Homo sapiens: one gene and its partner. The protein of the gene in region 1 purifies or fractionates together with the protein of each later gene. This does not show direct contact. Each region holds a gene or a part of one and is shown in the gene's direction. Other genes may lie near its edges.

Region 1 (3,500 bases):
CACCATGCCTGGCTAATTTTTTTTTTATTATTATTTTTAGTAGAGATCGCCACATTGGCCAGGCTGGTCTAGAACTCCTGACCTCAGATGATCCGCCCGCCTTGGCCTCCCAAAGTGCTGGGATTACGGGCATGAGCCACCGTGCCCGGCCTTAAAGAGGGAAAGTGGCCAGGCATGGAGGCTCACGCCCATAATCCCAGCACTTTGGGAGGCCTAGGTAGGCAGGTCACAAGGTCAGGAGATCAAGATTACCCTGGCTAACACGGTGAAACCCTGTCTCTACTAAAAATACAAAAAATTAGCCAGGCATGGCGGCGGACGCCTGTAATCCCAGCTACTCAAGAAGCTGAGGCTGGAGAATCGCTTGAACCTAGGAGGCGGGGGTTGCAGTGAGCTGAGATTGCACCACTGCATTCCAGTCTGGGCGCAGAGCGAGACTCCATCTCAAAACAAATAAATAAAATTTAAAAGGAGGGAAAGCTAACTGCTACCTTTCAGGGTAGTGATAAGGAACAAATGAGGTAATCCAAATAAAACACTGACTCTTGGGGTCCCGGTGAGCCAGTGGTTCTCATGGAGGCGAGTAGGAGGCCTGGGCATCAGCCTGTGAATGCAGTGAGGCCCCTTCCGCAGGATGCCTGACCTACGACCTACCTGAAATTCACCAACTGACAGGGCAACACTTGACCCAGAACCTCATCAGTCCCTGGCAGACAGGGTTGTTAAAACTTTGGAATATCATCCCTGTTTACCATCTTCCTTCTTCCCATCCAGGAGAGGTGTCAGGAAAATATTTTGGGGGATGTGAAATGGGGTATATGTGGGGAAAAGGCCTTTGAGTCCAGACAGTATGAGTGATAAATGGGAAAGAAGATTTTTCAGGGGATGGGAATTGTATGAGGAACTCCTGATGCCGGACACCTCTGAAGACACGTGGCCCACGGCATACGGAAGGACACCCTCAAAGATGGGTGACAGCTCCCAGGCTTTGTGGAGGGCAGAGGAGAGGGTCCGGAGAGCTCTGCTCTCAAGTCTGCGGGCCTGGATCTCTAAATAGGTGCCGCCTGTCATTACCAGCGCTGTGTGACTTTGGATAAGTCTGGCTTTTGAACTCAAACCTTCAACTGAAAAGAGTCTTCAAGGCCCTGATGGTGCCTGCAGGGGAAGGTGGCTGCGCGGTGCTTTCTCTGCTGCTGACTGCCTGAGCTTGCGTTTCAGTTGTCTGCTCTTCCCTTTGTTTTTTGGGGGGTTTTTTTTTGAGACGGAGTTTTGCTCTTGTTGCCCAGGCTGGAGTGCAGTGGCGTGACCTCGTCTCACTGCAACCTCCAGCTCCCAGGTTCAAGTGATTCTCCTGCCTCAGCCTCCCAAGTAGCTGGGATTACAGGCACGTGCCACCACGCCCGGCTAATTTTTTGTATTTTTAGTAGAGATGTGGGTTTCACCATGTTGGTCAGGCTGGTCTTGAACTCCTGACCTCAGGTGATCCACCCCTCTTGGCCTCCCAAACTGCTGGGATTACGGGCGTGAGCCCCCGCGCCTGGCCTTGCTCTTCCCTCTGGACGAGTCTCCCAGCAAGAGGTGAGGTAGGAGTTGTGATTCTGCCGCTTTTTAAGTCCAGATCCCTAGGGCATCAGGTCTCTGAGTAAGGCGTGGGACCAGGCCTCCTGGTCTTGTGGCCTTTCCAGTGCCCTCCAGAGGCTGGAGCAAGCTGGCAGTTGTGTATGGGTCAGTGGTCTTCAATGGTTGCCTGGCAGCTGCGCCAGAAACCCCCTTCTAAGATTTATGGGGCTGGAAGGATGTGAGGATGTCCTCTCCTAATTTGAATATCTACCAGCTTAGGTCCAATTTTTAAAAACTCACAAATTATTTTGATATGTAAATGAGACCATTGTGATAAATGACAACATGCAAATCTTTGACTTCCTCTGAGCCCTGGAGATTGGGCCAAAGGGACTTGAGAGTGCTGTGACAGGCTTCCCTGAACCTATGGACTGGACCTGTGCTACTATATTGTTTGGAGGTGAATTGGGAATATGCAAATTATCTTGTCACTGTACTTCTCTGGGCCCGCAGAACAAGGCTCTGCAATAATCTGCGTGACCTCCCAGGTTTGACTGGACACAGCTAAACAAATAACCTGGCAGAGGCTCCGGGGAGGGGTCTGGGCTCACCCAGGTGTCCTCTCTGGCCACAGTACTGCACCCCTCCCCACTTCCTGGGGGCTTTTCCTCTCACTTCCCTCCTTGAGGACCCTCTTCTGCTCCTCCTCTAGGTTCCCCTGACATAATTTCTGTTTCTCCGCAGAAGGAAGAGGCCCAGCAGAAGGGACTCGCTGAGCCACCCCCCGCCCCACTCCATGTTGGCTGTGCTCTCAGGTGAGAAGGTACCCAGAGGCCTACAGTGAGGACAAAGTAGACCCAAGGCAGCAGGCCAGCAGGGGCGGCCATTTTGTCTAGGCTGGGGAGTTCTGTGAAATGGCTATCAGGAGTTGTGGAGCTTCCTCCTCCTTCCCATGAGAGAGATTTGCCTCACTTACATCTCTAGTCTGTGACTTCAGAGGTCATGACCCCTTGACCTTCACCATGACCTGAGGTATCTCTGGCCTCTTCCAGCCTCAGAAGTGAGTTAGACATACTGGTCTTGGATGCTGGCCAGACTTGGGTGGCTAAGGGCCAACCCCTGACTTCTGTGACCAGAAGTGATTCAGCCTTCCACTAGTTTCTGACCAGCAGCTCCTGATCCTCTCTCTGCCTGATTTTAGAAGCCCCTGCCCTCTGCCCAGCCTCTGAGACTCTACCCGGCCTCTTCTCCCACTGTCTAGGCTGGCACCATGCCCCCCCCTGCAGAGGTGACGGACCCGTCCCATGCCCCCGCCGTCCTGCGCCAGCTCAATGAACAGCGGCTCCGTGGCCTCTTCTGTGACGTCACCCTCATAGCCGGAGACACCAAGTTCCCTGCTCACCGCAGCGTCCTGGCTGCTTCAAGTCCCTTCTTCAGAGAGGCCCTGCTCACTTCAGCCCCACTACCCCTTCCACCAGCTACTGGGGGCGCCGCACCCAACCCTGCCACCACCACAGCTGCCTCTTCCTCCTCCTCCTCTTCCTCGTCTTCTTCCTCTTCTTCCTCCTCTGCTTCTTCTTCTTCTTCCTCTTCCTCTTCCTCTCCCCCTCCAGCCTCTCCCCCTGCTTCTTCCCCACCCCGGGTCCTGGAGTTGCCAGGAGTCCCAGCAGCTGCGTTTTCTGATGTCCTCAACTTCATCTACAGCGCCCGGCTCGCACTGCCTGGTGGTGGAGGGGACGGGGCAGCTGTAGCAGAGATTGGAGCTTTGGGGCGCCGTCTGGGCATCTCCCGCCTTCAGGGCCTGGGGGAGGGAGGTGATGCCTGGGTACCTCCTACCCCAGCCCCCATGGCCACCTCGCAGCCTGAAGAGGACAGCTTTGGGCCCGGGCCCAGGCCAGCTGGGGAGTGGGAGGGTGACAGGGCTGAGGCCCAGGCCCCTG
Region 2 (3,500 bases), on another chromosome or scaffold:
GCAGCTTTTTTGTTGGTCTCTTTCCTTCCTACGTTTCCATCGGCTTGTGGGTTTTCCTTGTGAGCAGGGTTGGCATAGGGTTCTTAAATACGGGGAACGACGGAGCCCACATCAATGAGGGGGACGTCGTTATGCGAGGGTGGGCTGGGTGGCTAGGTCACAGCAGGATTGTGGCACCAGCAGTCAAAGTAACTGCAACTTTTTTTTTTTTTTTTTTTTTTGAGACGGAGTCTCGCTCTGTCGCCCAGGCTGGAGTGCAGTGGCGTGATCTCGGCTCACTGCAACCTCTGCCTCCTGGGTTCACGCCATTCTCCTGCCTCAGCCTCTCCCAGTAGCTGGGACTACAGGCGCCCGCCACCACGCCCAGCTAATTTTTTTTTTGTATTTTTAGTAGAGACGGGGTTTCACCGTGGTCTCGATCTCCTGACCTCGTGATCCGCCCGCCTCGGCCTCCCAAAGTTCTGGGATTACAAGCATGAGCCACTGCGCCTGGCCATAACTGCAACTTTTTTGGTAGGATCTGATGTTACTGCTTAGAGACGGGGTCCTGCTCTGTTGCCCAGGCTGGTCTCAAACTCTTGAGCTGAAGTGATCTTCCCGCCTTGGCCTCCTGAGTAGCTGGGATTCCAGGTACACACCACCAGGTCTGATACTATTTTAAACAGAAATCCAGGTGGCATTGTAGGGTCATTTGCATTAAAGCCTTCCTGTTGTCGACCACAGCCATGACATTATGACTTTCAAGCTTGTGTCCAGAGAGGGGTTCACAGAGAGAAGTCTCCCTCATGAGAGGAAGACTGTGGATCAGAGATAGGCAAACTTGATCTCTGAGGGGCCAGATGGGCTTTGTGGAAATGACTCAAACCCCTCTTGTGCAGGCAGCCACAGGCAGTGCGTACACAAGTGGATGTGACTGCAGGCCAGTGAAACTTTATTTACAATGGGATGGCTAGGCATGGTGGCTCACGCCTGTCACCCCAGTACTTTGGGAGGTTGAGGTGAAAGGATCACTTGAGGCCAGGAGTTCAAGACCAGCTTGGGCAACATAGCAAGACCCCATCTCTACAAAAAAATTTTTAAATTGGCCCTGCATGGTGGCTCACACTTGTAATCCCAGCACTTTGGGAGGCCGAGGCGGGTGAATCACCGGAGGTCAGGAGTTTGAGACCAGCCTGGCCAACATGGGGAAACCCCGTCTCTACTAAACATACAAAAATTAGCCGGGCATGGTGGTGCATGCCTGTAGTCCCAGCTACTCAGAAAGCTGAGACAGGAGAATTGCTTGAACCCGGGAGGTGGAGGTTGAAGTGAGCCGAGATTGTGCCATTGCACCCCAGCCTGGGCGACAAGAGTGAAACTCTGTCTCAAAAAAAAAAAAAAAAAAAAATTTAGCCGGGTGTGGTGGCACATGCCTGTGGTCCCAGCTACTGAGGAGGCTGCGGTGGGAGGATCTCTTGAGCCCACGAGTTTGAGGTTGCAGTAAGCTGAGATCATGCCACTGCCCTTGAGCCTGGGCAACAGAGTAAGACACTATCTCTAAAAAGAAAATACCAAACCAAACAAAACACAGGCAGTGTGCAGACTGGCTGTGGCTTGCCACTCCCTGGCCTGAAGCCTGGCCTCTTCCAGTCAGGGAACATCAGGGGTTCCAGCTTCTGCCAGTTTAAGTCATCTTTTCTGGTGTATTTCAAAGCCTTACTGTGAGTATGGGATTAATAGGCACAGGAAGGGACCTGGTGTGTGACAGATGGGTGGGAGGCCCATTCATTCACACACCCCGGGACTTGCAGTGACTTCCTGTGTATTGGATTCTTCCGCCTCTCATTCGCATCCATGATGTTGAATTCTGACTCTGTTTAACTTGTAATGTCCACATGAAGCCATTCTAAAATCTCCAGATCCCTCTCAGAAGGCCCTGGGGATGACCAGTTACCATGTGTCTTTATCTTTGAAGGAAATTTCCAGAACTCTTTGCACAGTTCAAGTCCTTCCTGGGGGTAAAAGAGCTGTCCTTCGCGCCACCCATGAGCGACAGATCCGGGGACGGGATAAGCCGGGAAATTGATTATGCATCCTGCAAGCGCATAGGATCCAGCTACCGGGCACTCCCCAAAACCTACCAGCAGCCCAAGTGCAGTGGGAGGACAGCCATCTGCAAGGAGGTAGCGCTCCCTGGGGCTCAAATGTTCGTTGACATGGTGCATCCCCCACCCCTCCCCAGCAAACACCCGATACCCCCGTTATGAATGAAATGCTGTGTGCTCAGCCCTCCTGAATGTTGGGTTATGGGTGGTGCTGGGATGTGGCCCGGCAAAACCACCTGAGCAGAGACAACAGTGTTGTACCCTGCTGGTAGTTTTGGCAAAACACAGAGTGCCAGGGATAACGTGGAGTTCGGCTTATTCATCTGTTATTTGACTTAGGTTTATTGCTGCCATGATTCTGCTCTGTCCCGGGCTCACTGACCTCAGTGTGTTTCTGTTTAGCTTGACCATTGGACACTTCTCCAGGGTTCGTGGACAGACGATTACTGCATGTCCAAGTTCAAGAATACCTGCTGGATTCCAGGATATAGTGCAGGGGTCAGCAAACTCTGGCCCACGGGCCCTGGCCCGCTGCCCGTGTTTGTAAATAAAGTTTTACTGTCACACAGACACAACCATTCCTTTACATATTGCCTGTGGCTGCTTTTCTCACCACAAAGGCAGAGTTGAGTATTCATCTGGGATGGCCTGCAAAATCTGAGATGGTTGCTGTCTGACCCTTTGCAGAGAGAATTTACCAATGTCTGAAATGAAATCGGCCCTCCGGATCTGCAAGTTCCTCATCTGTGGTTTCAACTAACCATGGATTGAAAATACGTGGGGAAAGAGAAACCAAAAAATGACAATACAGCAATAAAGCGTAATCCACATTTTAAGAATGCAGTGTAACAATGATCTACACAGCATTTACATTGCATTAGGTATAAGTATTCTAGAGATGATTTTGCATAGGATATATGCAAATAGGATTCCATTGGACATCAGGGACTTGAGTATCTGTGGATTTGGGTCTTCAGGGGTGGTTCTGGAACCAATCTCCCAGGATACCAAGGGAGTGTCCACTTGACCAAAGTCATGTTTTTCCTTAAAAACTTTATGCACCTTCCCATTTGTATAAGGCAGTTGGTATTATGTATCAGGATGGTATTATGTATCTTGGTACTTTCTACACTGGCTAACAGTAAATCTTGGCTCCTGGGGCATGCAGCGTCATTCACGGCATTTCCTCTTGGTGCAGGTACTGAACGACACCTGGGTCTCCTTCCCTTCCTGGTCTGAGGACTCCACGTTCGTCAGCTCCAAGAAGACACCGTACGAGGAGCAGCTTCACCGCTGTGAGGACGAGCGCTTCGAGGTGTGTGTGCTGCTGTGGCCGGGTCCCCCGGCATGTGCCTGTTCCCCTTCTCCATGGGACATGCATCCTGATCCTCCTCCACTGCCCCAGTCTCGTTTGGA

Evidence for each region.
Region 2: the proteins of ZBTB4 (region 1) and SIN3B purify together in Homo sapiens (affinity purification with western blotting, with the first as the bait; one study listed by BioGRID). This does not show direct contact.

The regions. Positions count from the first base shown.
Region 1 is NC_000017.11:7,466,132-7,469,631, reverse strand, and holds part of ZBTB4 (zinc finger and BTB domain-containing protein 4), read left to right. Parts: intron 1-2,304; 5' UTR 2,305-2,375; intron 2,376-2,821; 5' UTR 2,822-2,830; coding exon 2,831-3,500. UniProt on the Homo sapiens protein: Transcriptional repressor with bimodal DNA-binding specificity. Represses transcription in a methyl-CpG-dependent manner.
Region 2 is NC_000019.10:16,860,398-16,863,897, forward strand, and holds part of SIN3B (paired amphipathic helix protein Sin3b), read left to right. Parts: intron 1-1,954; coding exon 1,955-2,162; intron 2,163-2,254; exon of another isoform or gene 2,255-2,486; coding exon of another isoform or gene 2,487-2,582; exon of another isoform or gene 2,583-3,246; coding exon of another isoform or gene 3,247-3,282; coding exon 3,283-3,399; intron 3,400-3,500.